Linked DNA regions of Homo sapiens: region 2 is linked to region 1. Evidence: fine-mapped expression QTL. Tissue or cell type: whole blood. Region 1 holds a variant in brackets; the other region holds the start of a gene. All regions are shown on one strand. Distances are from middle to middle.

Region 1 (10,494 bases):
AGGTATCTGCTGCTATTGTGAAGACATAAAGACAGTGGAAGGTTATTGCTTACACACACTATTTAGCTAAGCCATTCTTATTTAACGCTGTATCATAAAATTTTCAGGTTGTATATAAATTGTGGTAGCACATGCTAACTCTCAGGTAATTTTTTACCAATAGCTCACCTAAAATTGCTTACTACAGTTCTACATTCTAGATCATTGTCATGTCCCGATGACTGAAAGAAAAATTGTTAAAAATCCATGCATAAAGTGCTGTGTAGCTTTTAAGGGAAGCGCCATCCTTGTTCCCAGAATTTTCCATTCCAGCCTCTCTATAGCCTTTGTTATCATCAGCAGATGCTCTTTGTGATTCTTCCTTTGTTATTTTTCCTACTGCTCTGATTCAAGGTGGAATTTGCCATCACATGGTAACTATGCTAGAGGAAAGTACCTCATAAGCAAAATTTTCCTTGGACACCAAGATAGAATAAAGGAAAATTAAAACACTATAGTACCAAAGAACTGTAGAGAAACTGCATGATTTAAAGAATAAAAAACAGTTCAAAATGTGGAAGCATTGACCTTGGGTGATGACTGTAGAAAAATCACTTCACTCAGTTTCCTCATCTATGAAATATAAGTAAAACGGTAGTATCTCCCAGAATGATTACAAGGAAGAAATCAGATGAGGCCTCTATCTGAGAATTCTGCGATCTGTAAACAGCTTAAAATAGATATTTAAAAATTATCAACTGAATTCTAGGGACTTATAGTCTTTTTATATCTGATTTATTATAGTCCTGAGGTATGAAAAGGAGTCTAGAATGTTTCCCTTAAAAATATTTACATGAATCAAGCTAAACAGCATTAGCAATTTTATTTTGGAAACTTTTATAGAGTTGATGTCATTTTTTTACAGGTGTTTTTCCTGAATCGTGGGCCTTGGGTATTCTAAAGTATCAGAAAGAATATTTGTGTTATGTTTTGGCCGTCAGGAGTATTGTGCTCAAAGCAAATCTATCTGTTTCAAATCAAAGCACGTTCTTGAAGCTGTTGGGAGAGAGGGACTGTAGCACTGGTTTTATTTTTAGTCTGTTTGCCTAAATCTCTACTGAGAAGACCCTATAGGTAGTATTTCCTTGGAAACTTTTACAGAATGCAGGCTGTTTGTTCATTCCTATAATGGACTGGTTACTCACTGCTCTCTGCTAAGAACAGCATGGATTTCAGAGGGAAAACCTTTATGTACCATACTTCACCCTAAACCTGTATAAAACCCAATCTTACTGGTGCAACACACACAATAGTTTTTTGTAGGAAGACAGTTGAGATGAATGCCATGAGAGAATTCTAAGAAAAAGAGGACACAGACCTTGCCCTCAAGATGTTTACAGTTGGATAGGAAGGGTTAGATCAATAAACAAATGTAAAATATCAACTATTGTGAAGCGCTATATATAAAGAGAGGTTTAAACCAAGTCATTTCAAAGGGAAAATCTCATAATACCTATTTACCATGTTGAAAAATTATTTTCAGCTAGCTCTGATCCTCTCTTTACTGGTTTTTCTAATGATAAGTCTCCTGGATGGATGTGTTGTTCAGAGAAAACCAGATTTTTTTCCCTTCGGTAGACTCTCAAATCATTCATGCTAGCTTTGGCATAGGTGTAACAGTAGAGGCATAAGACTGAATTTAGAACAGGACTTAATTGTTGGGAGAGCAGTACCTTGGAGGGATGTAGAAATGAGCGTAGGTAACTATGTTTATTGAATGACACTTTATGCCAGGCACTGAGCTGCCTTGTCTGGGTAAGAGAATAAATAATTGCATGTTTGTGCAGTACTCTATTGCAGTATTTCATTTAGATATAACATGAAATTGACTGTGTTATTTAGATTTTAAACATGAGAAAAACAGAGATCACAGAGAAAAGAGGACCTGTCCAATATGTCCAGCTAAAAATTGCACAAATTATTTTTGAACCAGATTTCTTGGACTCCAGCATTTCTACTCTATTCTTCTTGCCAGGCAATTGGGTACTAGAGCAATAGAGTGAAAAGAGCAAAGGATCAGAACTCTCAGGGATTAGTGAAGGCTGCCTGTTAGGAGGTCCAGAGCTAATACTTGGAAAACACAATTAAGTAGACAAACAAAATCAATGGTACCTGGAATCAAGCTAGTGTACTTATAAACTATATTCTTGTATTTTTAATAGAGTAATTTTTGTGGTAGGTGGAACAGAAATCTCAATGTTTATATACATTGTCACAACAATAAACATTCAAAGGCTAAAATATGAAAAGCATTTAAGGCTGAGGTGTTTTATAAACTCAAGGCCATGAAAAATGCCTTCCCTAGGGTGATTAACTTGGCCTTACAGTAGACTAGAAGTCAGGATCCTTCATGTGAATATTGGATTTGCTATGGTCCTGTATACTTTCAGCCTTACTTTCCTCAGTGAAACGAGTAGGCTAACCTAGAACAGTGGTTTTTCAAGTTCATGTCATGACCCATTACTTGACCAAATGAAGTAGAAAATAGAGACGTGCATTTCTTTAAAAAACTTTCACTTTAGGCTGGGAGTGGTGGCTCACGCCTGTAATCCCAAGACTTTGGGAGGCCTAGGCTGGTGGATCACCTGAGGTCAGGAGTTCGTGACCAGCCTGGCCAACATGTTGAAACTCCGTCTCTACCAAAAATACAAAAATTAGCCAGACGTGGTACTGTATACCTGTAGTCCCAGCTACTCGGGAGGCTGAGGAGGGAGAATCGCTTGAATCTGGGAGGCAGAGGTTGCATCCAGCCGAGATTGCACCACTGCACTCCAGCCTGGGAGACAGAGTGAGAATCCATCTCAAAACAAAACAGAACAAAACAAAACAAAACAAAACAAAACAGAACAAACACACACACAAAAACTTTCACTTTACTGTTTAACTTGTATGGTTGACATGTGAACTGTATTGTTGACATATAAACTGTATTGTTGACATATAACTTGTATTGTTGACATGTAAACTGCATCTCTAACTAAGGGAAATGGGCAAATTTTTAAAAAAACTTTGCCTTATATCATCATTTAGATTGTTGCCAGCTCCAAAATTACCTTGTTCTGTCTTTTAAAAATCCAAGACTCCCTTTTCAGACCATACTTTTCTTCTGCCTTTTACACTGCTGTCTGCCTTGTTAACATGGCTTTGCCTGCGTTCCTAGCACCATCCTACTCTGCATTTGCTTCTAAATTACCCACTCTCTTGATTCCTTCTTAACTTTTCTTCCTCCCCTAATTTTGGAGCTTCCTATAAGCATAGACCCTTGTTATCAGTTGTCCTTCACTGAAGCACTACTCCCAAGAAAGTCTCACTCAAAAATCTGAACTATTAACTACTTTCCTCTCACCTAAACCATCAACATCCAACAACATTTCCTCCTAGATGTTGCAATGTCACCACAAGGTTGAATTTCTTGTTTATCACCTGAAATATGTTTCTCCTCTTTTACAGGTTCAATTTTAATATTATAATTTAGAGATGCTGAAATTTTTTCTTTTGATATGGAGAAGGGTCACCTGAGCCCAGGAAGGCTGTTGGTTTTGCAAATATAAGACAAATAGGCACCTGGCAGAAGAGTATAAGTGATCTTTTGTATTTAATGGCTTATTTTTTGGTACATGAAGGCTTAGCATGATTTTCAAAGTGTAGCTCCTGGAAGAGCAGTGTAAGCATTACTTGAGAATTTGTTAGTATTGCAAACTTTGAAACCCCTCCCAGACCTGTGGGATCAGAAACTAGCTGTTTTTTTTGTTTGTTTGTTTTGATTTTTTAAAATTTATTATTATTATACTCTAAGATTAAGGGTACTTGTGCACAATGTGCAGGTTAGTTACATATGTATACGTGTGCCATGCTGCTGCGCTGCACCCACTAATTCC[T/G]CATCTAGCATTAGGTATATATCCCAGTGCTATCCCACCCCCTCCCCCCACCCCACAACAGTCCCCAGAGTGTGATGTTCCCCTTCCTGTGTCCATGTGTTCTCATTGTTCAATTCCCACCTATGAGTGAGAATATGCGGTGTTTGGTTTTTTGTTCTTGCGATAGTTTACTGAGAATGATGATTTCCAATTTCATCCATGTCCCTACAAAGGACATGAACTCATCATTTTTTATGGCTGCATAGTATTCCATGGTGTATATGTGCCACATTTTCTTAATCCAGTCTATCACTGTTGGACATTTGGGTTGGTTCCAAGTCTTTGCTATTGTAAATAAAGCCACAATAAACATACGTGTGCATGTGTCTTTATACCAGCATGATTTATACTCCTTTGGGTATATACCCAGTAATGGGATGGCTGGGTCAAATGGTATTTCTAGTTCTAGATCCCTGAGGAATCACCACACTGACTTCCTCAATGGTTGAACTAGTTTACAGTCCCACCAACAGTGTAAAAGTGTTCCTATTTCTCCACATCCTTTCCAGCACCTGTTGTTTCCTGACTTTTTAATGATCGCCATTCTAACTGGTGTGAGATGGTATCTCATTGTGGTTTTGATTTGCATTTCTGTGATGGCCAGTGATGGTGAGCATTTTTTCATGTGTTTTTTGGCTGTGTAAATGTCTTCTTTTGAGAAGTGTCTGTTCATTTCCTTTGCCCACTTTTTGACAGGGTTGTTTGTTTTTTTCTTGTAAATTTGAGTTCATTGTAGATTCTGGATATTAGCCCTTTGTCAGATGAGTAGGTTGCAAAAATTTCTTCCCATTTTGTAGGTTGCCTGTTCACTCTGATGGTAGTTTCTTTTGCAGTGCAGAAGCTCTTTAGTTTAATTAGATCTCATTTGTCAATTTTGGCTTTTGTTGCCATTGCTTTTGGTGTTTTAGACATGAAGTCCTTGCCCATGCCTATGTCCTGAATGGTAATGCCTAGGTTTTCTTCTAGGGTTTTTATGGTTTTAGGTCTAACGTTTAAGTCTTTAATCCATCTTGAATTCATTTTTGTATAAGGTGTAAGAAAGGGATCCAGTTTCAGCTTTCTGCTTATGGCTAGCCAGTTTTCCCAGCACCATTTATTAAATAGGGAATCCTTTCCCCATTGCTTGTTTTTCTCAGGTTTGTCAAAGATCAGATAGTTGTAGATATACGGCGTTATTTCTGAGGTCTCTGTTCTGTTCCATTGATCTATATCTCTGTTTTGGTACCAGTACCATGCTGTTTTGGTACCAGTACCATGCTGTTTTGGTTACTGTAGCCTTGTAGTATAGTTTGAAGTCAGGTAGTGTGATGCCTCCAGCTTTGTTCTTTTGGCTTAGGATTGACTTGGCGATGCAGGCTCTTTTTTGGTTCCATATGAACTTTAAAGTAGTTTTTTCCAATTCTGTGAAGAAAGTCATTGGTAGCTTGATGGGGATGGCATTGAATCTGTAAATTATCTTGGGCAGTATGGCCATTTTCACAATATTGATTTTTCCTACCCATGAGCGTGGAATGTCCTTCCATTTGTTTGCATCCTCTTTTATTTCATTGAGCAGTGGTTTGTAGTTCTCCTTGAGGAGGTCCTTCATGTCCCTTGTAAGTTGGATCCCTAGGTATTTTGTTCCCTTTGAAGCAATTGTGATTGGAGTTCATTCATGATTTGGCTCTCTGTTTGTCTGTTGTTGGTGTATAAGAATGTTTGTGATTTTTGTACATTGATTTTTTATCCTGAGACTTTGCTGAAGTTGCCTATCAGCTTAAGGAGATTTTGGGCTGAGACAATGGGGTTTTCTAGATATACAATCATGGCGTCTGCAAACAGGGACAATTTGACTTCCTTTTTCCTAATTGAATACCCTTTATTTCCTTCTCCTGCCTAATTGCCCTGGCCAGAACTTCCAACACTATGTTGAATAGGAGTGGTGAGAGAGAGCATCCCTGTCTTGTGCCAGTTTTCAAAGGGAATGCTTCCAGTTTTTGCCCATTCAATATGAGATTGGCTGTGGGTTTGTCATAGACAGCTCTTATTATTTTGAAATAAGTCCCATCAATACCTAATTTATTGAGAGTTTTTAGCAAGAAGTGTTGTTGAATTTTGTCAAAGGCCTTTTCTGCATCTATTGAGATAATCATGTGGTTTTTGTCTTTGGTTCTGTTTATATGCTGGATTACATTTATTGATTTGCATATGTTGAACCAACCTTGCATCTCAGGGATGAAGCCCACTTGATCATGGTGGATAAGCTTTTTGATGTGCTGCTGGATTCAGTTTGCCAGTATTTTTTTGAGGATTTTGCATCAATGTTCATCAAGGATATTGGTCTAAAATTCTCTTTTTTGGTTGCGTCTCTGCCCGGCTTTGGTATGAGGATGATGCTGGCCTCATGAAATGAGTTAGGGAGGATTCCCTCTTTTTCTGTTGATTGGAATAGTTTCAGAAGGAATGGTACCAGTTCCTCCTTGTACCTCTGGTAGAATTCTGCTTTGAATCCGTCTGGTCCTGGACTCTTTGCTTGGTAAGCTATTGATTATTTCCATAATTTCAGATCCTGCTATTGGTCTATTCAGAGATTCAACTTCTTCCTTGTTTAGTCTTGGGAGAGTATATGTGTCCAGGAATTTATCCATTTCTTCTAGATTTTCTAGTTTATGTGCATAGAGGTGTTTGTAGTATTCTCTGACGGTAGTTTGTATTTCTGTGGGATCGGTGGTGATATCCCCTTTATCATTTTTTATTGCGTCTATTTGATTCTTCTCTCTTTTTTTCTTTATTAGTCTTGCTAGCGGTGTATCAATTTTGTTGATCCTTTCAAAAAACCGGCTCCTGGATTCATTAACTTTTTGAAGGGTTTTTTGTGTCTCTATTTCCTTTAGTTCTGCTCTGATTTTAGTTATTTCTGGCATTCTGCTAGCTTTTCAATGTGTTTGCTCTTGCTTTTCTAGTTCTTTTAACTGTGATGTTAAGGTGTCAGTTTTAGATCTTTCCTGCTTTCTCTTGTCGGCATTTAGTGCTATAAATTTCCCTCTACACACTGGTTTGAATGCATCCCAGAGATTCTGGTATGTTGTGTCTTTGTTCTCGTTGGTTTCAAAGAACTTCTTTATTTCTGCCTTCATTTTGTTATGTACCCAGTAGTCATTCAGGAGCACGTTGTTCAGTTTCCATGTAGTTGAGCGGTGTTGAGTGAGATTCTTAATCCTGAGTTCTAGTTTGATTGCACTGTGGTCTGAGAGACAGTTTGTTATAATTTCTGTTCTTTTACATTTGCTGAGGAGAGCTTTACTTCCAAGTATGTGGTCAATTTTGGAATAGGTGTGGTGTGGTGTTGAAAAAAATGTATATTCTGTTGATTTGGGGTGCAGAGTTCTGTAGATGTCTATTAGGTCCGCTTGGTGCAGAGCTGAGTTCAATTCCTGGGTATCCTTGTTGACTTTCTGTCTCGTTGATCTGTCTAATGTTGACAGTGGGGTGTTAAAGTCTCCCATTATTAATGTGTGGGAGTCTAAGTCTCTTTGTAGGTCACTCAGGACTTGCTTTATGAATCTGGGTGCTCCTGTATTGGGTGCATATATATTTAGGATAGTTAGCTCTTCTTGTTGAATTGTTCCCTTTACCATTAAGTAATGGCCTTCTTTGTCTCTTTTGATCTTTGTTGGTTTAAAGTCTGTTTTATCAGAGACTAGGATTCAACCTCTGCCGTTTTTGTTTTCCATTTGCTTGTTAGACCTTCCTCCATCCTTTTATTTTGAGCCTATGTGTGTCTCTGCACATGAGATGGGTTTCCTGAATACAGCAGACTGATGGGTCTTGACCCCATATCCAATTTGCCAGCCTGTGTCTTTTAATTATAGCATTTAGTGCATTTACATTTAAAGTTAATATTTTTGTGTTTGAATTTGATCCTGTTATTATGATGTTAGCTGGTTATTTTGCTCGTTGGTTGATGCAGTTTCTTCCTAGTCTCAATGGTCTTTACATTTTGGCATAATTTTCCAGCAGCTGGTACCAGTTTTTCCTTTCCATGTTTAGCACTTCCTTCAGGAGCTCTTTTAGGGCAGGCCTGATGGTGACAAAATCTCTCAGCATTTGCTTGTCTGTAAAGTATTTTGTTTCTCCTTCACTTATGAAGCTTAGTTTGGCTGGATATGAAATTGTGGGTTGAAAATTCTTTTTTTTAAGAATGTTGAATATTGGCCCCCACTCTCTTCTGGCTTGTAGAGTTTCTGCCAAGAGATCCGCTGTTAGTCTGATGGGCTTCCCTTTGAGGGTAAGCCAACCTTTCTCTCTGGCTGCCCTTAACATTTTTTCCTTCACTTCAACTTTGGTGAATCTGACAATTTTGTGTCTTGCAATTGCTCTTCTCGAGTAGTATCTTTGTGGCATTCTCTGTATTTCCTGAATCTGAACGTTGGCCTGCCTTACTAGATTGGGGAGGTTCTCCTGGATAATATCAGGCAGAGTGTTTTCCAACTTGCTTCCATTCTCCCGTCAGTTTCAGGTACACCAATCAGACGTAGATTTGGTCTTTTCACATAGTCCCATATTTCTTGGAGTCTTTGTTCGTTTCTTTCTATTCTTTCTTCTCTAAACTTCCCTTCTCACTTTATTTCCTTCATTTCATCTTCCATCGCTGATACCCTTTCTTCCAGTTGATCATATTGGCTCCTGAGGCTTCTGCATTCTTCACGTAGTTCTCGAGACTTTGTTTTCAGCTCCATCAGCTCCTTTAAGAACTTCTCTCTATTGGTTATTGTAGTTATACATTCTTCTAAATTTTTTTCAAAGTTTTCAACTTCTTTGCCTTTGGTTTGAATGTCTTCCCATAGCTTGGAGTAATTTGATCATCTGAAGCCTTCTCTCAGCTCGTCAAAGTCATTCTCCGTCCAGCTTTGTTCCATTGCTGGTGAGGAACTGTGGTCCTTTGGAGGAGGAGAGGCGCTCTGCTTTTTAGAGTTTCCAGTTTTTCTGCTCTGTTTTTTCCCCATCTTTGTGGTTTTATCTACTTTTGGTCTTTGATGATGGTGATGTACAGATGGGTTTTGGTGTGGATGTCCTTTCTGTTTGTTAGTTTTCTTTCTAGCAGACAGGACCCTCAGCTGCAGCTCTGTTGGAGTGCCTGGCCGTGTGAGGTGTCAGTCTGCCCCTGCTGTGGGGTGCCTCCCAGTTATTCTGCTCGGGGGTCAGGCATCAGGGACCCACTTGAGGAGGCAGTCTGCCCGTTCTCAGATCTCCAGCTGCATGCTGGGAGAACCACTGCTCTCTTCAAAGCTGACAGAGAAGGACATTTCAGTCTGCAGAGGTTACTGCTGTCTTTTTGTTTGTCTGTGCCCTGCCCCCAGAGGTGGAGCCTACAGAGGCAGGCAGGCCTCCTTGAGCTGTGATGGGCTCCACCCAGTTTGAGCTTCCTGGCTGCTTTGTTTACCTAAGCAAGCCTGCGCAATGGCGGGCGCCCCTCCCCCAGCCTTGTTGCCGCCTTGCAGTTTGACCTCAGACTGCTGTGCTAGCAATCAGGGAGACTCCGTGGGCACAGGAGCCTCCGAGCCAGGTGCGGGATATAATCTCGTGGTGCACCGTTTTTTAAGCCCATTGGAAAAGCGCAGTATTCAGGTGGGAGTGACCTGATTTTCCAGGTGCTCTCACCCCTTTCTTTGACTAGGAAAAGGAACTCCCTGACCCATTGCGCTTCTCCAGTGAGGCAATGCCTCTCCCTGCTTCGGCTCGTGAATGGTGCGTGCACCCACTGACCTGAGCCCACTGTCTGGCACTCCCTAGTGAGATGAACCTGGTACCTCAGATGGAAATGCAGAAATCACCCATCTTCTGCGTCGCTTACGCTGGGAGCTGTAGACTGGAGCTGTTCCTATTCGGCCATCTTGGCTCCCACTACCTCCTAGCTGTTCTTTAATAAGTCCTCCAGATATTTCTAATGAATATATACTAAGGTTTGAAAACTACTGTTACACACTTCTTGGTATACAGAAATCATCATGAACTAATTTGCATATGAAGCTTAGGGCCCGCCTTATAGGAGAGAAATTCTGATTTTTCACTGGCACTTTCTGAGATCCAAATTTACAGGAGCATGACTCAGGTGGAGATTACATAAGGTTCCCAAACTGAAGTTACCTGGTGAAATGTTTGAGTTTGTGTCTTATGTTCAGTGCAATATATTTTTTAAAGCTTAATTGACATATAATCCACATACCACGAAATTCACCTTTTAAAAATGTATAGTTTACTGTTTTTACTGTATTTTCAGAATTTGAGCCATCACCACTTTCTAAAAGTGTTCATAGAAACTGATTAGGTGAAATATGTGACTGATGCTAAAGGTTTGGAGAAGCCGCTGCATGTATGCAAAAAGAACTATTTGCACCCTGAAAATAGAGTGTGAAAGAGGCACTACCGTGGTCTCTGTGGGGCTGGCAGAACAAAGGCAAACTGTGTGTTCCAGAAAACTATTTAGAACCCATCTTCAACAGAAATCCCTTGGTGATAGCAAGGAGAATGTGGTTGTGGGTTGATTATACCTACCTGC
Region 2 (10,494 bases), 160 kb before region 1:
TATCAAAATGCCCATCAATGGTAGAATGGATAAAGAAAATGTTGTACATATACACCATGGAATACTATGCAGCCATAAAAAGGAACAAGATCATGTCCTTTGTAGGGACATAGACAGAGCTGGAAGCTGTTATCCTCAGCAAATGAACGCAGGGACAGAAAACCAAACACCACATATTCTCACCTGAATGAGCTGAATGATGAGACCACATGGACACATACTTGGCCTTTTGGGGGTGGGGTGTTGCAGGAAGGAAAGCATCAGGAAGAATAGCTAATGCATGCTGGGCTTAATACCTAGGTGATGGGATGATCTGTGAAGCAAACCACGGTGGCACACATTTACCTACATAAAAAACCTGCATATTCTGCACATGTACCCTGGAACTTAAAACAAAAATTAAACATTAAAAAAAAAAGCTATAGTAACCAAATTAGCATAGAACTGGCAAGAAAACAGACACACAGACCAATGAAACAGAATAGAGAACCCAGGTATAAATCAATGCATTGACAGCCAACTCATCTTCAACAACAGCACCAAGAGCATACAACAGGAAAAGGAGAGTCTGTTTAATAAATGGTGCTGGGAAAACTGGGTAATTACATGTAGAAGGATGAAATAAACCCCTATATCTCACCATACACAAAAATAAAATTAAAATGGATGAAAGGTTTAAATCTAATACCTGGAACTATGACTATGAAACAATTAGATGAAAACTTTGCGGAAGTGTTCCAGGACATTAGGCTGAGCAATGACATTTTGTGTAAGACCTCTAAAGCACAGGCAACCAAGAAAGAATAGACAAATGGCATTGAACCAGGCTAAAAAGCTTCTGCACAGCAAAGGAAACAATCAACAATGATTTAAGGTCCTGTATGAGGGATTTGTTAAAGTATAATCAAAATGGAGGCAACAGTATATTCTTAGGTCAACCACTCATAGCCACATAACCAAAATTTAAGCTATCCTGATTTCTCTGAAATGCAATTTCTAATGATTAACAAAAGTTAAGCTTTCCTTTCTTGTTAGTATGATGAAATTGAACCAATTTGTTACAGATAAATAAGTTTATACAACTCTACTTGCCCAAAAAGGAATATGTTTTTAATAGCCAGTCACAGCAGAGGTCAATGCACTTCCTCATTGATGCTTTATAAGCTGCACTGTAACTCTCACGTCAAGTTTCTTACTATTTTTGATTTGAAGTCTTCTGGTTTGTGAACTATTCTTCTGTATGTATAATAAACCTTCATATTCCTTTTTTACTTGACCTGACTTTATTTTTACGGGGTCCTCCATGGCGTTTGGGTTTCTCACAGTGTGGCAGTCTCAGGATAATACTGTAGTACTTTTCACTAGGCAGGTGTCTTCTATGAGCAAGATCTCCAACAGAAAGGAAGTGGAAGCTCTTGTGGTCTGGAACAGAAAGCTCACACAATCTCTCTCTCTCTTTTTTTGTTTTGAGACAGTCTTGCTCTGTTGCCCTGGCTGGAGTGCAGTGGTGCGATGTTGGCTTGCCGCAAGCTCTGCCTCCTGGGTTCAAGCAATTCTCCTGACTTAGCTTCCCAAGTATCTGGGATTACAGGCATGCGCCACCATGCACAGCTAATTTTTTTTTTTTTTTTTTTTTTTTTTGCATTTTTAGTAGAGACGGGGTTTCACCATATTGGCCAGGCTGGTCTCGAGCTCCTGACCTTGTGATCTGCCTGCCTCAGCCTCCCAAAGTGCTGGAATTACAGGCGCGAGCCACCACGCCTGGCCAGCCCACACAGTATCTCTTCAGCAATATTCAGTAGGTTAGGGGAGTCAAAGAGCCCACCCAACTCAAGGGGAGAAAACAAAGGACCCTTATTCCCCCTTTATACGCTTCATGATGAGAGTATCAAAGTGCTTGTTGCAATATTTATTTCACCAAGGAGGAAAAGGTCAATTTGGACCAGAAAGGTCAGAAAAAGTTTCCCCCGTCTGGGTATCTCCAATTCTTCTATCCCTGGTTCACCTCAGAGTATTGCAGTTCTGAGAACCAGTGCATTCTGGATTCATTGTAGAACTTTGATTCTCTACTTGACTGTATGTCAGAATCACCAGAGAGCTTGAAAAATCCTGATACCTGGATCTTTTCCCGCAAAACTCTGGTTCATTTGGCTTGGGATTCAGTGTGGGCATTAAGGAGTTTCATCAGCTCTCCATGTAGCTTTAAATGTGATTTTAAGCTGGTTAAAAACCACAGCTTTAAAATGATATGGCCTAGACAGTGCACTGTTAGGTAAATACTTATTCCATAGGCATCAGGGTTAAGTTGATATGCAGAGAAGATCTCTAAAGAGAAAAAAAAAAAAAAAGGTAGGAAACAAATGAAAGTGGAATAAATGAAGGTGTAAATCAATAAGATGAATGGGGGAGGGGATGTCACTCTACGTATATGGTATAAGTTCTGCTCTTTTAGCTCCACGTAAGCTAAAATTGTGGAATAATGTACAAGACAAAAGTTATGAAGTTAGCATCGAATTTAAGCCAGAATTAAAAATTGTCAGGCACTCTCAGCTTGTTTTCTAGATTCGGTATTGATCTCTGCGAAATTCAGTTTTCTCTTTGCCAAAGGATATTGTGAGGTTTACTGGATATTTTTGACCTAGATGTATAGGCCTACATACTTGGACACAGGTTGTCTGTTAACCTAAGACTTTGAGTCAAATTTTAATAATAAGAATAGTTATAAATGTATAGCCCTATGAGTTAGCATTTTTTTAGTTCCAGCTGAAAAAAGAAAAAAGAATTGTCTAGAACATTTTTCTCTCTTCTGGGTATCCCCAGTACTTCTATCCCTGAGTTGCAATCCACTAATATTATTATTTATTTGATGCTCAATTTGTCCCAGATTTGTCCAGTGGGAACCCCTTTAAATGTCCTTAAAGGTAAAAACTGCCAGCATGTTCTACTGAGATATGGACTAACAATGTCAGACATATGTGGGTGCTTGAATAGTATTTGCTTCAAAAATATTTATTACTAGAAAGCTGCTGTGTTTGGGGTGAGAGGTTAGTAGGGAAGGGGGTTCATAAAGGGAATGCAAAAGCCACGTCCTCTGGAAGTTAAAGGATCATTTTAAATGATTCTACTGCAAACATTTTTCAAAAGATAAACATGACCCATTTCTCCAATTTGTGTCATGTAATAGTAATAATAATGATATTTAAATACTCCCACTGATATGTCCTTTACAAAGATATATTATATGTCTTATTTAATCAAAAAACCTTAAAAGAGTCCCTGTACCTAATTTTATTCCAGGACTCAAACTGTGTCAGCATGTCATTCAGTGCAAATCAGACATTTAGATGCATAGGCTATGCTGTCAGTAGTTCTGAACTTTCATAGACATTTCCAATTAGCTCGGAGAGACAACTGGATATTGTGTTTAAGCACTGTGTTTAGGAAAACAGGCACTGGATGGACCAATGCCAAATTTCCTGCTCTGCTGCTTAACTAAGTATGTGTAATTACTTGGGCAATTACTTAAGCAATTACTTGGGCAATTACTTAAGCCAATCCCCAATTTCTTCGTCTTGAGCCCAGAAGGTCAAGGCTGCAGTGAGCCGTGAATGTGCCTCTGCCCTCCAGCCTGAGCGACAGAGTGAGAATTCCCCAGGAGTGCAGAGGTTCTCAGAACTGCAATACTCTGAGATGAATTTTGAAAGGTGAATCAGGGATAGAAAAAGTTATATAGGGAAGGCAGTCAATAAGCTTGTTTTAAAGGATATGGAGCATTTGAAAAAGTGGAATGTACATAAGGCTGGAAATATCAAATATCTAAATATAGAACAGGAACAGTGATGAAAAGACTTTCAAAATGCTTAGCAAAATGAGAATTATATTTCTTTCTCAACTCTTTTGTTCCAACAGCAAAAGCAACAGTGGGGATCAGCATCAACTTGGGTAAGTAAGTTTTTCTGGTCATAAATAGGCTGATTCAACTGAAAAAAATGTTTCTTTAAGAAGGGTGAATTTGTGTCTAAGGATTTTATGAGACTAACTGGGAAAAGTCAGTCAGAGTTTAGTTTGAGGTGAGAAGTGCTTACTGTTGACACTCTACCTAATTATAGGGAAATGTGTGCAGTTAGTCCTGAGACCAGATGCAGGGTTGAAAGAAAGAGGTGTGATGTAGCAGCCATTGATTAGGCAATTTGGGTTTAGCAAGCCCAGTCAATGCCCTCAGAGGGTCAACAGTGTATAAGATTTAGTCCTTGAAGGCATCTTTTAAAGTTTCATTCAGAAGATTTTAATAATTTTGACCATAATTTTCTGAGAAGAGGCTTTTCTGAGATTTGTCATTCACAGATAAACAGTTGTCTAATTTGTGTGTGTGTGTGTGTACATGTGTGCATGCGTGCATTTGTGCATGTGTGCCTATCTAGCCTCTTTTGAACACAATGGTAGATTGGCACCTGGTAGATAATATTGTTGAATGAATTGTATTATTCATATTATCTCACTGCCAATTTGAAGAATCTACATTCTGTTTCCAAAGTTTTGTGCATATAATACTAAACCAGAAACAGACGTGTTTTAGTAATACGTACCAATTACAAATTAACCATTCCTGCCTGGAATAAACACAGGTTTTGTTAAATAGCTCAATTTTCAAAATTTGTCTCATGTTATTTCCAATCCTTTTTTTTTTAACGCCGATATATTTTGAATTTACGAATGTGAAAGCTGAACTTCAAAAAAATAAAGGGAGAGGAAACAAAGCTCGTGAAAAATTTTAAAAATATCTTTTAATGCGTTATAACATCCTGGAGAGAAATCAAATCAATGTGTTTCAATGTTACAATATAGATTTCTCCTCCCCTCCCGGATAAAGCACTAATTTATTTAATTTGGTTCAGAGCACTGAATATTCCAAGCTACAGCCTTGTGGGTAAGAGCATTATCTTAAAGAGTGTTCGGATTTAACAAAGGTCAATGTCTTGTGCAGTTTACATAGTATCTACTCTCAGTAGCTTTTGCTTCTTGAGCTCTAGGTGGCTCCTCAGAAGCTGTTAGGCTTAACAAACAAAAATAAAGTAAAATCAGACACGGTATGGGGCCTTGGGACTCTAAAACCTTCATCCGGAGAAAATCAGTTAAGCCTTCAGAGACTAGAAGAGAGAATGTGTGTGATTGGTAGGCAAAGCAAAGAAAGATTAACACAAGTTGTCTGGCAGCTGGATAAAACCTTACACCTGCGCAAAAATAAGCCTCCCTCGTAAGAAAGCCCAAAGATGTCCGGGGTCCGGGAGGAGAAAAGTGTTTCTCATCTGTCCCATCAAAGCAAATTAGTGAAACCTGCCTCAGGTGAAGTGCAAAGGCCAGTCTGTAGGCAGAGTTTCGACCTCTCCCCACGAGATTGGCTAGACATCACCTGCCCAAGCTCTCTCCCGACCTGCTAGAGCCGAGAGGGCGGAGGCCGGAGAGGCTGCAGCCGGGAAGTAGCACCGCCACCGCACATCCGGGAACGCCAGCAGCCGGCTGAGGGCTGCATAACTGATGGAGGGCCGGGCGCGGTAAGAGCGTCTCGGGGGAGTGGGGCAAGGCGGCCGGGCCCCTCCCATTCCGCCTTTTCTTCAGCGTCCTACCCGCGGCACTGGCTGCGAGCGCCGGGCCACCTGCGAGTGTGCGCAGGGACTCTGGACACCCGCGGCGGCGAGCTGAGGGAGCAGTCTCCACGAGGACCCAGGCGGACCCTCTGGCGCCATGCGCGCCCTCCCCGGCCTGCTGGAGGCCAGGGCGCGTACGCCCCGGCTGCTCCTCCTCCAGTGCCTTCTCGCTGCCGCGCGCCCAAGCTCGGCGGACGGCAGTGCCCCAGGTGTGATGGGTACAGGGTCCAGGGTAGGGAGGGCGGAGGGCGCGCGAGGCTCGGGTCCCCGCGGGCAGAGGGCATCGCCGGCGCGCCGGGCAAGGGTGGCGGGGAGAGGCGCGGGGATGCTGGTAAGGGCGGGTGGGAGAGTCGGCGGCGGCCTCCCATTAGCTACGTTTGTGTCACCTAAGCTGAACCCTGAAACTGCTGCGGCTCGCGTTCCTGCGCTCTTTGGGGCGAGTCTTGAACGAACAGCGCCCCGCGAGTCGGGCGCGTAGGTAACAGGGCAGAGTCTGGTTTTTCCTAGGAAGAAGGCAGTGGGGTGTGTGGGTGGTTGCAGGGACCAGCTAGCGACTTGGCTTGGGCAAATATGGCATGAATTTTGAAAGCCACATTTCCCCAAGGCCTACTCCCTTTTCTTGATTCGAGAGTAAGGCTCGAGTATCACCTCCTTCCCTCCTCTTGGCAGGTGGGTTGGCTTTGAGGATTTTTTTTTTTTTTTTTTTTTTTTTTTTGAGACGGAGTTTTACTCTTGTTGCCCAGGCTGGAGTGCAATGGCGTGATCTCGGCTCACCGCAACCTCCTCCTCCCGGGTTCAAGCGATTCTCCTCTGTCAGCCTCCAGAGTAGCTGGGATTACAGGCATGCGCCACCACGCCGGGCTAATTTTATATTTTTAGTAGAGACTGGGCTTCTCCACATTGGTCAGTCTGGTCTCGAACTCCCAACCTGAGGTGATCCGCCCGCTTCGGCCTCCCAAAGTGCTGGGATTACAGGCGTGAGCCACCTCACCTTGCCGAGGATGTTTTTTTAGAGCTGAGTAGGGGAAAAAACATCATAACCAACTAGCCAACCAAAGATCCACAACTTACAGGATAACGTGTGTGTATCTTCATTTTACACCGTGGTCTTTGAAAACAAAATGTGTGTGTGCATGTGTGTGTGTGTATGTGTGAGATTTTTGCTTGTTGTTTTATTGTTTAAGACACTTTGACAGAGGGATTACGTGCAAAACATTAACAAAGCCAACACGAAAGTTGCCATTCTACCTTCACCTGTTTATAATTACTTTTCATATTGAAAGGATTCCATCCAACCTATTGCAAGTTTCTGTGTCATAAATGTTACCAGCCAGTAAGGGTAATAAAAGACCACCTCTCAAGCTGGTAAATATTGGCCACCAGTAACTAAAATTGGGACATTATTCTGCAAAAAGTTTTCAAACTCTCATGGGAATTTATTTTCATGGGCTTGTAAGATGTGGAATTTTTGTAACACACCATAGAGAAGGAAGGATAATCAAAAGGTAAGACTATTAATTTTTATAAATGCCTTTTAAAACGTCTAGTTGTTAACAACTTGGACAGAACATCGTGGGTTCCTTCGCAGATTTCCTTGTGCCACATCTCTTTTCCATAATACCACTTATAAAGAATTGTCCAGGCCTGTAATCCCAGCACTTTTGGGCGCTGAGGTGGGAGGATGGCTGGAATCCAGGAGTTCAAGACCACCCCGGGCAACATAGCAAGGTCCCTTCTTTATTAAAAAAAAAAAAAAAAAAATTAAAAGTGCGGTTGTGGTGATGTACACCAGTAGTCCCAGGTGCTTGGGATGCCAAGGCAGAAAGATTGCTTCAGTCCAAAGTTTGAGGCTGCAGTGAGCTATGATGGTGATGGTGCCACTAAGCTCCAGCCTGGGTGACAGTGCAAAACTGTCTCAAAAAAAAAGAAAGAAAAAGAAACAGAATTGTCCAGGACATTTTTCCCCCTTCTGGGTATCTCCAATTCTTCTATCCCTGGTTCACCTCAGAGTATTGCAGTTCTGAGAACCAGTGCATTCTGGATTCATTGTAGAACTTTGATTCTCTACTTGACTGTATGTCAGAATCACCAGAGAGCTTGAAAAATCCTGATACCTGGATCTTTTCCCGCAAAACTCTGGTTCATTTGGCTTGGGATTCAGTGTGGGCATTAAGGAGTTTCATCAGCTCTCCATGTAGCTTTAAATGTGATTTTAAGCTGGTTAAAAACCACAGCTTTAAAATGATATGGCCTAGACAGTGCACTGTTAGGTAAATACTTATTCCATAGGCGTCAGGGTTAAGTTGATATGCAGAGAAGATCTCTAAAGGAAAAAAAAAAAAAAAGGTAGGAAACAAATGAAAGTGGAATAAATGAAGGTGTAAATCAATAAGATGAATGGGGGAGGGGATGTCACTCTATGTATATGGTATAAGTTCTGCTCTTTTAGCTCCACGTAAGCTAAAATTGTGGAATAATGTACAAGACAAAAGTTATGAAGTTAGCATCGAATTTAAGCCAGAATTAAAAATTGTCAGGCACTCTCAGCTTGTTTTCTAGATTCGGTATTGATCTCTGGGAAATTCATTTTTCTCTTTGCCAAAGGATATTGTGAGGTTTACTGGATATTTTTGACCTAGATGTATAGGCCTACATACTTAGACACAGGTTGTCTGTTAACCTAAGACTTTGAGTCAAATTTTAATAATAAGAATAGTTATAAATGTATAGCCCTATGAGTTAGCATTTTTTTAGTTCCAGCTGAAAAAAGAAAAAAGAATTGTCTAGAACATTTTTCTCCTTTCTGGGTATCCCTAATTCTTCTATCCCTGATTCACCTTTCAAAATTCATCTCAGAGTATTGCAGTTCTGAGAACCTCTGCACTCCTGGGGAATTCTCACTCTGTCGCTCAGGCTGGAGGGCAGAGGCACATTCACGGCTCACTGCAGCCTTGACCTTCTGGGCTCAAGATGAAGAAATTGGGGCTTGGCTTATGTAATTGCCCAAGTAATTGCTTAATTGCCCAAGTAATTACACATACTTAGTTAAGCAGCAGAGCAGGAAATTTGGCATTGGTCCATCCAGTGCCTGTTTTCCTAAACACAGTGCTTAAACACAATATCCAGTTGTCTCTCCGAGCTAATTGGAAATGTCTATGAAAGTTCAGAACTACTGACAGCATAGCCTATGCATCTAAATGTCTGATTTGCACTGAATGACATGCTGACACAGTTTGAGTCCTGGAATAAAATTAGGTACAGGGACTGTTTTAAGGTTTTTTGATTAAATAAGACATATAATATATCTTTGTAAAGGATATATCAGTGGGAGTATTTAAATATCATTATTATTACTATTACATGACACAAATTGGAGAAATGGGTCATGTTTATCTTTTGAAAAATGTTTGCAGTAGAATCATTTAAAATGATCCTTTTAACTTCCAGAGGACGTGGCTTTTGCATTCCCTTTATGAACCCCCTTCCCTACTAACCTCTCACCCCAAACACAGCAGCTTTCTAGTAATAAATATTTTTGAAGCAAATACTATTCAAGCACCCACATATGTCTGACATTGTTAGTCCATATCTCAGTAGAACATGCTGGCAGTTTTTACCTTTAAGGACATTTAAAGGGGTTCCCACTGGACAAATCTGGGACAAATTGAGCATCAAATAAATAATGATATTAGTGGATTGCAACTCATTTAATAATATGGGAATTCATGAGTACCCACTGATGTAAATTTAAAAAGGAGTCAATGAAAAGTTTGATGGGGTACAAAGTATTAAAGATTCAGAGTAACTCTTCAGAATGTGCTCATTAATATCAAGGGAAAAAGAGTAACTTTATGGTGGAGAAGCTTGGCAGACAGCACTTTGATCAAATGATCAAAGACCAAAATCTGTTTAAATGGAACAGATGAACCATAAGCCTACTTTTATTTATTTATTCATTCATTCATTCATTTAATTTTTGAGACAGGGTCTCACTCTGTCACTCAGGCTGGAGTACCGAGGCACACTCATGGCTCAGGGCAGCCTTGACCTTCTGGGCTCAAGAGATCCTCCCACTTCAGCCTCCCACATGGCTGGGACTACAGGCATATGCCACCACACCCGGCTAATTTTTGTATTTTTTGTAGAGATGGGGTTTCACTAGGTTGCCTAGGCTGGCCTTGAACTCCTAGGCTCAAGCGATCTTCCTGCCTCAGCCTCCCAAAGTGTTGGGATTATAGGCGAGAGCTACGGTGCCCAGCCTAAGCCTACTTTTAATAGTGATGTTTCTGATGCATGACCATTTTTACCCTAAATTTATCATCACAAAAAAATTATATGTTGAAAACATTTGTTAAGAATTAGGGCAACTGACTCTTCCTCATCTTCTGTCACCCTCGTTCCCTTCCCTCCTACCTCTCATCTTTCCCTCCATAGGTCCTATAGTTATTTGGTGGGGAAGAGCAAGGAGACATCCTCACTAAGTGGGTGGAGCCCAAGGGGACCAGATCAGGATATCTGAGGCTGACCCTGGTAAGGATGGCATCAGGCAGGAGGGCAGCCTGGTGTGGAGTATTAGGGCCTGAGCACAGTGAATGGTTGCTCCTGCAGCGGGCAGCTTGACACAGGATCCCAGAGTTGAGCAAGTTTAACAAGGCTTTTGTGCAGGAGCAGCAGATGGGTGATGTTTGATCCCAAACAAGATGTGGAGGAAAGCATGTAGGAGGGTCAGACCAGCGATGGAGGTTGGAGCCTGAGTGGGTAAGGAGACATCTCTGTGGGGACAGGTGTGGCAGTAGCAATGACAGTTTAGCAGTATACAGGGTGATGGATCAAATAATTAAATCTAGGA

Evidence for each region. PIP is the estimated chance that this variant, and not a neighbour inherited with it, causes the effect.
Region 2: EMB starts here. The variant in region 1 is fine-mapped to the expression of EMB in whole blood (TOPMed, PIP 0.93).

The regions. Positions count from the first base shown.
Region 1 is chr5:50,279,571-50,290,064 of GRCh38, reverse strand. No RefSeq gene overlaps it. Among named protein-coding and RNA genes, the nearest start is that of EMB, 160 kb to the left of the region's middle. The variant T/G (reference allele first, on the strand shown) is at 3,918.
Region 2 is chr5:50,436,400-50,446,893 of GRCh38, reverse strand. EMB (embigin) reads left to right here and starts at 5,606. Exons shown (of 9, transcript NM_198449.3): 1 at 5,606-5,854. The coding sequence starts at 5,743. RefSeq lists silencers at 5,663-5,792, 5,873-6,062.